2 linked regions of the Homo sapiens genome follow. The protein of the gene in region 2 purifies or fractionates together with the protein of the main gene of each other region. This does not show direct contact. Each region holds a gene or a part of one and is shown on either strand. Other genes may lie near its edges.

Region 1 (3,500 bases), on a different chromosome or scaffold from region 2:
TACATCAGAGGGTTCATTTTCATTCTCTTGTAAGGATATGAACTTATGTTCTATGAAGGTGAAACCTTAGTGTGAAATGTACATTTTTTTCATTGTGCTTTACCATATATGAAGAAGTAAACATACCTGTTCTGATTTAAGTACATTGAGTTCTTTCTGAAGTTTATCATTTTCACTTGGTTGAGTTGCTCTAAGTGATGATTCCTTTGTTACAGATGGTAAGTGATCCAAAATCAACTGTTCTTGCTTACTTTCTTCTCCAACAGTCATATTTTCAAAAGAAACTTTATCTTCCACCATTATTTTTGATTCTTCACCAAAACTTTTATTTACTTTAGAAACTGATCCTTCAGCACCCCTGCTTGTCATGGTCACAACTCCATCTAATAAAGAGCTTACTTGAGTATCACATGACTGTACATTTTCTGCCCTGTTGTGGTTAATAATGATTTCTAGCTCTCTACATCTCAATGAAACTTGTTCTTTCTCTTGCTTTAAAGATTTAACTTCTTCATTTAGAAAACTAATCTCACCATGTTTCTGTTTCAATTGTTCAGAAAGATCAGACAGTCTCTGTGACAGCTCTAATTTCTCTCGCTTGGTTACCTCAAGTTTTTCCATGAGTTCTGTTGTATCCTTTTCAACAACCTCACCCATTTCCAATGTTTCTGCTACAAAAGTTTTGTCTTCATCAAAGACAGAACTTTTCATTTTCACTGTAGTTGGATTTATTCTTTGCAAATGAAGCTCTTCATTAAGTGCTTTAAGTTTACTTTTATACTCTAATTCCTGTTTATTTTTACTGTCTTCTAAATCATCTTTTACTTTGAGAAGGCAAGCATACTCCTCTTGTAACTCTTGATAGTTAACTTCAAAGTTTTTTTCAGCAAATGAAAAAGTGTTCCTTTGCTTTTCAATCTCTTCATTTAGCTGAATACATTGTTGTTTGAGGTCCTCATTTTCCTCTATAAGTATTTCTATTTCTTTTTCCCACACAGAGTCTTTGGATTTGGACTTAATGGAGTCTAAGAAAATCAATCTTTCTTCTTGGCTAACAGGAGTATGTATTTTCAACATGTCTTCAAGGGTTTTCTTTTCATCTTTAAGAATGCTATTCTCTGCTTCAAGTTGTGCAAATTTTTCTTGAAGATCATTCTCTTTTTCCTTCATCTGTTTTTCTAACAATTCTGTTTTAAGTTGTAATTCTTGAACTTCTTGTTCAAGTGTACCCTTTTCTTTTTCTTCTTGTCTGAGTATTTCAATTTCTTTTTGAAGTTCATTGATTTGAAGAGTCATTTCTTCTGACTTTGAATTTACAAGAGACTGCTGTAAATCTTTTAGCTTTGAAATTTCCAAAATTAATTGATTCTGCTTAGTTATCAAATTGTCCTTTTCAAACTGCATGGTTTCTATCTTTTGACTCATTTCATTCTGTAAACCATCTATCTGCTGTTTATAGTGAATGCCTAAATTATCTTTAAGTTTTTCAATATTTATTCGATGTTCAATTTCTAAATCTTCCTTCAGTTTGGAAAGCTCTTCTTCGTGACTAAATAGAAGCTGTGTTCTCAGCCTCTCTAATTCAGCTTCTTGTGATTCAGCCATTCTGTCTAACACAGCATTCTTTTCTTTTTCTAACATTTCAAGTTTTATCTTGTAATTTGTAACTTCTGCTTCATGTTTTAATTCTAGTTCCTTTCTGGATTCAGATGCAGAAACAATCTCAGCTTTCAAATCTTCCACTGTACTAAGGGACTTATGTGCTTCATTAAGTTTACTTTCTTGTTCAGCTATTGTCTGTCTAGCTCTCTGAATCTGTTCCCTTGAAAAGCTCAATTCTTCAACAAGGTCTTCAAGCTGTCTCTGTAGAGCACACTTTTCTTCTAAAATTAGTCCTAGTTCTTCCTTGAGTTTTTCCTTTTGAGAGTTAGTATCTTGCAATTTTATATTCAGTTCATTTATTGCCACATTCATTAACTTTATCTGATCTTCATTAACTGTAATATTTGAATATGACCTTAAAGCATTCTCCATTTCTCCCTTATGCCGTGTTTTCATTTCCTCCATCTGTGCCATGTGTTGTCTTATTAATTCTTGTTTCATTTGCACTATCTGCTGCCCATACATCTCATCCAGCTCTGCCCGGAGTTGTTCTAACTTTCTTTGTGTTTCTTGTTCCATTCGTTGTACTATATCAGTTTCGAACTGGCTGTCTTTATGATTTCTCTTCTGAAGTTCTTCGACTGTCCCCATTAACTGTTTTATTTCTTCAGAAGACTGTCTTTCTTTTTGCTTAGAATTAGTCAGCTCTAATTTCATGTTTTTTATTTCTTGGTTCTTTTGCACAATCTGTTCTTGTAATTCTCCTAGTAATTTATCAGCAGTTGTTAATTTATCCTTTAGCTCAAGAGTTTTCTTTTCTTCTTCTATTATTTTTGTGTTTAATTCTTCAATGATTGTCTCCTTTTCCTGTATTTCTTCTTTATTTGAGTTTTCTACTTTTTTATCTTGTTCCTTTAGGAAAAAAAATGAAAATGTAAGAATGGCATTTTTAGCTTCTGGCAAATTATACTGCTTCATCTCATTACCAAAAGACTGACAGAAGTTTCTCTTTTAAAAAATTCTACAAAAAGTAAATGTTGGTCCTGCCCCTCAATTTTTTCCACAATAATGACACTTAGAACTCGTGTAACCAACACTACTTGTGAGCAAACACTACAGTAGTTTTGGCCTTCTTAGAAGAAATTTCTCTTAACATTTCTGTGATTAAAATTTTTAGTTTAAAAACCCAGTCTGATTTTAGATGTCTCCAAACTGTTACATTTTCATTTTTCTTATTAACTGATCAACATTCTAAATATTTAGTATTCTCTATAGCTAAAGTACTGCATATACTCTAGACACATTCAGAAAGATAAAAATAAATAAAAGTTCCTCACATGTATTCTGGTGACTTCAATGTGTGTCATGGGCAAGGGCTATGGAAAAAGAAAAACAACAAAAACAGACTCCTAACGGTCTGTCTTAACTTCAGTCCTGGGCTCTTAAGTCAGTCAGAAATTTAGAGATATGCAATGCTTAAAAGGCTGAACCTCAAGTGACATCTAAGACAACTATACCATTTATGGCATAACAACTTGGTCCTAGGACTTTTGGTTTAAACAGAATTTTCAAAGCAAAGCAGATACTCTCCCCCAGTTCTTATTTGGGATTCTATTTTGGAATGGAGATAGGGCTACGCCCAGACACAGGCCAAGGCATATCTGTTATGGTGATTACTTCAGCATGACAAAGTCAAGCAGAGGCCCTAGGTCAAAGTTTTGCTTCAGTAACTTACTTGCCTCTGTAAGTAATAGAGGGCTATAGTCTCAAAAACAAATAAATACATGAAATCTACAGAATGGATCAGGACATAAGTAGGTAAGTAAAATCATTTTAAAGAGACAGGAGTCCCAGGCAAACAGGACTTAAAGGTGCCTTGAATGAATGAATGAATGAAT
Region 2 (3,500 bases):
ATAGAGCAAGACTCCATCATAAAAATAAATAAATAAATAAGAGACTTAATCAGGAACTTTCCGAATGTACCATGCTACTAATTTCTCTCAAGAGCCATTTATTTATTTATTTTTTAGATAGAGTCTTTTTCTGTGGCCCAGGCTGGAGTGCACTGGTGCTATCTAGGCTCACGGCAACCTCTGCCTCCTGGTTCAAGCAATTCTGCCTTAGCTTCCCAAGTAGCTGGGATTACAGGTGCGTGCCACCACGCCCAGCTAATTTTTGTATTTTTAGTAGAGACGGGGGTTTCACCATGTTGGCCACGCTGGTCTGGAACTCCTGACCTCAAGTAATCTGCCCTCCTGGCCTCCCAAAGTGGTGGGATTATAGGCTTGAGCCACCGCGCCTGACCAAGAACAATTTGTGAGTTTAGGAGAAAACCCAGGTATTATTCATTCGGCAGTATATATGTAATTGTAGGTTCAAATATGTTTCAGCTGTCACAGGACAGAATCTGTTAGGGAGAGCTATTCAAAAGTAACTTGAGTAAGGCGGGACTTGGTAAGTGCAAAAATGAAGGGTCACGAAAGTTAAGCAAAGTAGTGGCTTGGTCCTTGAGAGATTTTGTAGGCAGAGAGATTGGGGCTTGGGTGGGGTGGAGAGGATTCCAGGAAGAGGAAGCAGCACAGGAAGAAGGGGGTGGAGACAGGAAAAAGAAAAACCATCAAAACCAAAACAGGAAACCAGGATACCCACGGACATAACTGCTATAGAACAAGCAAGTAGGCTGAGCACGGTGGCTCACACCTGTAATCCCTACATTTTGGGAGGACGAGGCGGACAGGTTACTTGAGCTCAGGAGCTCGAGACCAGCCTGCACAACGTGGCAAGACCTTGTCTGTACTAAAAATAAAATTAGCCGGCCATGGTGATGCATGTCTGTAATCCCAGCTATTCAGGATGCTGAGGCAGAAGGATCACTTGAGCCCAGGAGTTGGAGGCTTCAGTGAGCCATGTTCACAACACTCTACTCCAGCCTGGGTGACAGAGCAAGAGCCTGTCTAAAAAAGAAAAAACAAACAAACAAAAAAGATGAAGCAAGTAGGCATTCCTCTTTCCTCAGGTTAGGGTTCTTTTCAAAGGTGCTTTTCAGGTGGGCAAATATCAAAGATGAGCCAGCCTCCCCCTAAGCCTGTGGACTCCACTGTGAGGGGAGTCGGCTGTTCCTTATGACACCATTGTGCAGTTGTGCCTCACACAGGACAATGAACATAAGAATCAGTCAAGTAATAGAGGCTGCTTTGGTTGGCGTGTGCCTCAAGGAACTGGCAGAGGCTAACATTAGTTGGTCTCACCTCAAAAGCAGGCATTTCCAGCCTCGGCCCTACTGACAGTTGGGGAGGGCACAGGAGGAAGGGGCATCTTGTGCATGATGGGACTTAGCAGCCTCCTGGCCTGCACCCACTGGATGCCTGGAGTACCATCCACCCTCTGTTGTGACAATCAAAAATGTCTCCAGGCCGGGTGCGGTGGCTCACGCCTGTAATCCTAGCATTTTGGGAGGCTGAGGCGGGTTGATTGTCTGAGCTCAGGAGTTTGAGACCACCCTGGGGGCAACATGGTGAAACCCCGTCTCTAATAAAATATAAAAAATCAGCTGGGCTTGGTGATGCACATGTGTAATCCCAGCTACTCAGGAGGCTGAGGCCGGAGAATAGCTTGAACCTGGGAGGTGGAGGTTGCAATGAGCTGAGATGGCGCTACTGCACTCCAGCCTAGGCCACAGAACGAGACTCTATCTCAAAAAAAAAAAAGCGTCTCCAGAAATTGCCAAATGCCTTTTGGCTGGGGAGGAGGGTGGCGGGTGGGGGAAAGAGGAGGAGCATTATCCCCCACTGAGAACTCTGCCTCCAGAGGCTGTATCTAGCTCGGGATTCCTTGCCTGAGTTATGAGGAGTTACCCCCATGAAATAGGTGAAAACCTTGATTAGTAGGAATGTGGCAAAACGAGGCACCTATTCTTCACCCACACCCTTTAGGTCTTTAGGTTCACATTTGTCTAACTCACTGCTGCCTTCAAATCATTAACAAAGCCACAAAATGGAGCTGAAGTTGTCTTACAAAGCAAGGAAACAAAGTCAAATTTGAGGGGTGTAAAGAGAGAGAAAGGATGAGATATGAAGTTTATTTTAGTCTATCAGATATCGACTTATCCATATTTATCTGTAGCAATGTTTCTAACTACCCATGGCTTTAAAATTGTTATCTGTGGCCCTGGTGGATGCTTTGATGTTCATTTGCCTGGATATGCTGTCTCTTTTCATCATGCTAAAGTCATTAGGGCCCCAAATGATGTGGCTTCAGCATCGCCACCTCTGGCAAAGATACCAAGGGGCGTGAGTTTCTCAGAAGGTCTTGCCTGGCACCCCTCCCACCACGAGCCAGAGGCTGGGTGTGGGTTCCCTCTTGACTTATTGCCCCAACAGTTTCCCACTCTTGCCCCCAACATAAGCAGCAATATCAGTGTCCCAGAAAGGAACAATTAAGGGGAACAATACCAGGCAGGAAAAGTGGGGGTGGGGGGATGGGAGCCAGGCCAGCACCTGCCATTCCCAGTGTGGAAGTAGGTGACCTGTGTGTTCCTGGGCTGCCTCAGGGTTGAATATGCAGAGACGCTTAAAGTCAAGCACCTCAAAAAGCAGCAAGACCAAACCCACCTGTCAAAAGTGGGAAGACGGCCAGGCACAGTGGCTCACGCCTATAATCCCAGCACTTTGGGAGGCCAAGCTGGGAGGATCACTTGAGGCCAGGAGTTCCAGACCAGCATGGGCAATGGAACAAGACCACATCTCTGTAAGAAATAATTAAAAAGATTAGCCAGGTGTGGTGGTGTGTGCCTGTAGTCCCAGCTACTCAGGAGGCTGAGGCGGGAGGATCCCTTGAGCTTGGGAGGTTGAGGCTACAGTGAGCCATGATTATGCCACTGCACTCCAGCCTGGGTGACAGAGTGAGACCCTGTCTCAAAAAATTTAGGAAAAAAAAAGAAAGAATAATACATGGAACTCCAGCTGATTGTGAAGTGGCAGGGAGGAGGGGAAGAATCACACATGTTGAAGGAGCTTCTGCGAGTGCCAGCCACTGCGCCAAGCCCTTCTCACACAATGCTCCCCAACCCTCCAACAGGGAGTCTCATTATCCCCTTTGCCAACAGAGAAACTAAGGCAGGCAGAGAAGGTTAAGTCAGAGAACCAAGTGGAGGAACCAGGACATAAGCCCGGGATGTTGGTCTTCAGAGCTGTCCTTCCTAATCACCGTTGTTTTGGGGGGTTATTTAAGAAATTGGATCGCATAGCTGTTTTTTGTGTATTGATGAGCTTTCAGAGATGTCTGTTATTTATTAGCTATTTTTCAGCTCTGTCGAGAGGAGATCCACTTCCTGTAAAGGACAGAATGGAAATGCCCACGGCAACCCAGAAAACAGACACAGGCCTGACTCAAGGACTCCTGAAAGTTTTGCACA

What was found. The genes of interacting proteins can lie anywhere in the genome.
Region 1: the proteins of ROPN1L (region 2) and AKAP9 purify together in Homo sapiens (affinity purification with mass spectrometry; 2 studies listed by BioGRID and IntAct, with this or other methods). This does not show direct contact.

What each region holds. Positions count from the first base shown.
Region 1 is NC_000007.14:91,999,862-92,003,361, reverse strand, and holds part of AKAP9 (A-kinase anchor protein 9), read right to left. Parts: intron 2,515-3,500; coding exon 127-2,514; intron 1-126. UniProt on the Homo sapiens protein: Scaffolding protein that assembles several protein kinases and phosphatases on the centrosome and Golgi apparatus. Required to maintain the integrity of the Golgi apparatus. Required for microtubule nucleation at the cis-side of the Golgi apparatus.
Region 2 is NC_000005.10:10,444,879-10,448,378, forward strand, and holds part of ROPN1L (ropporin-1-like protein), read left to right. Parts: intron 1-3,381; coding exon 3,382-3,500. UniProt on the Homo sapiens protein: Functions as part of axonemal radial spoke complexes that play an important part in the motility of sperm and cilia. Important for male fertility.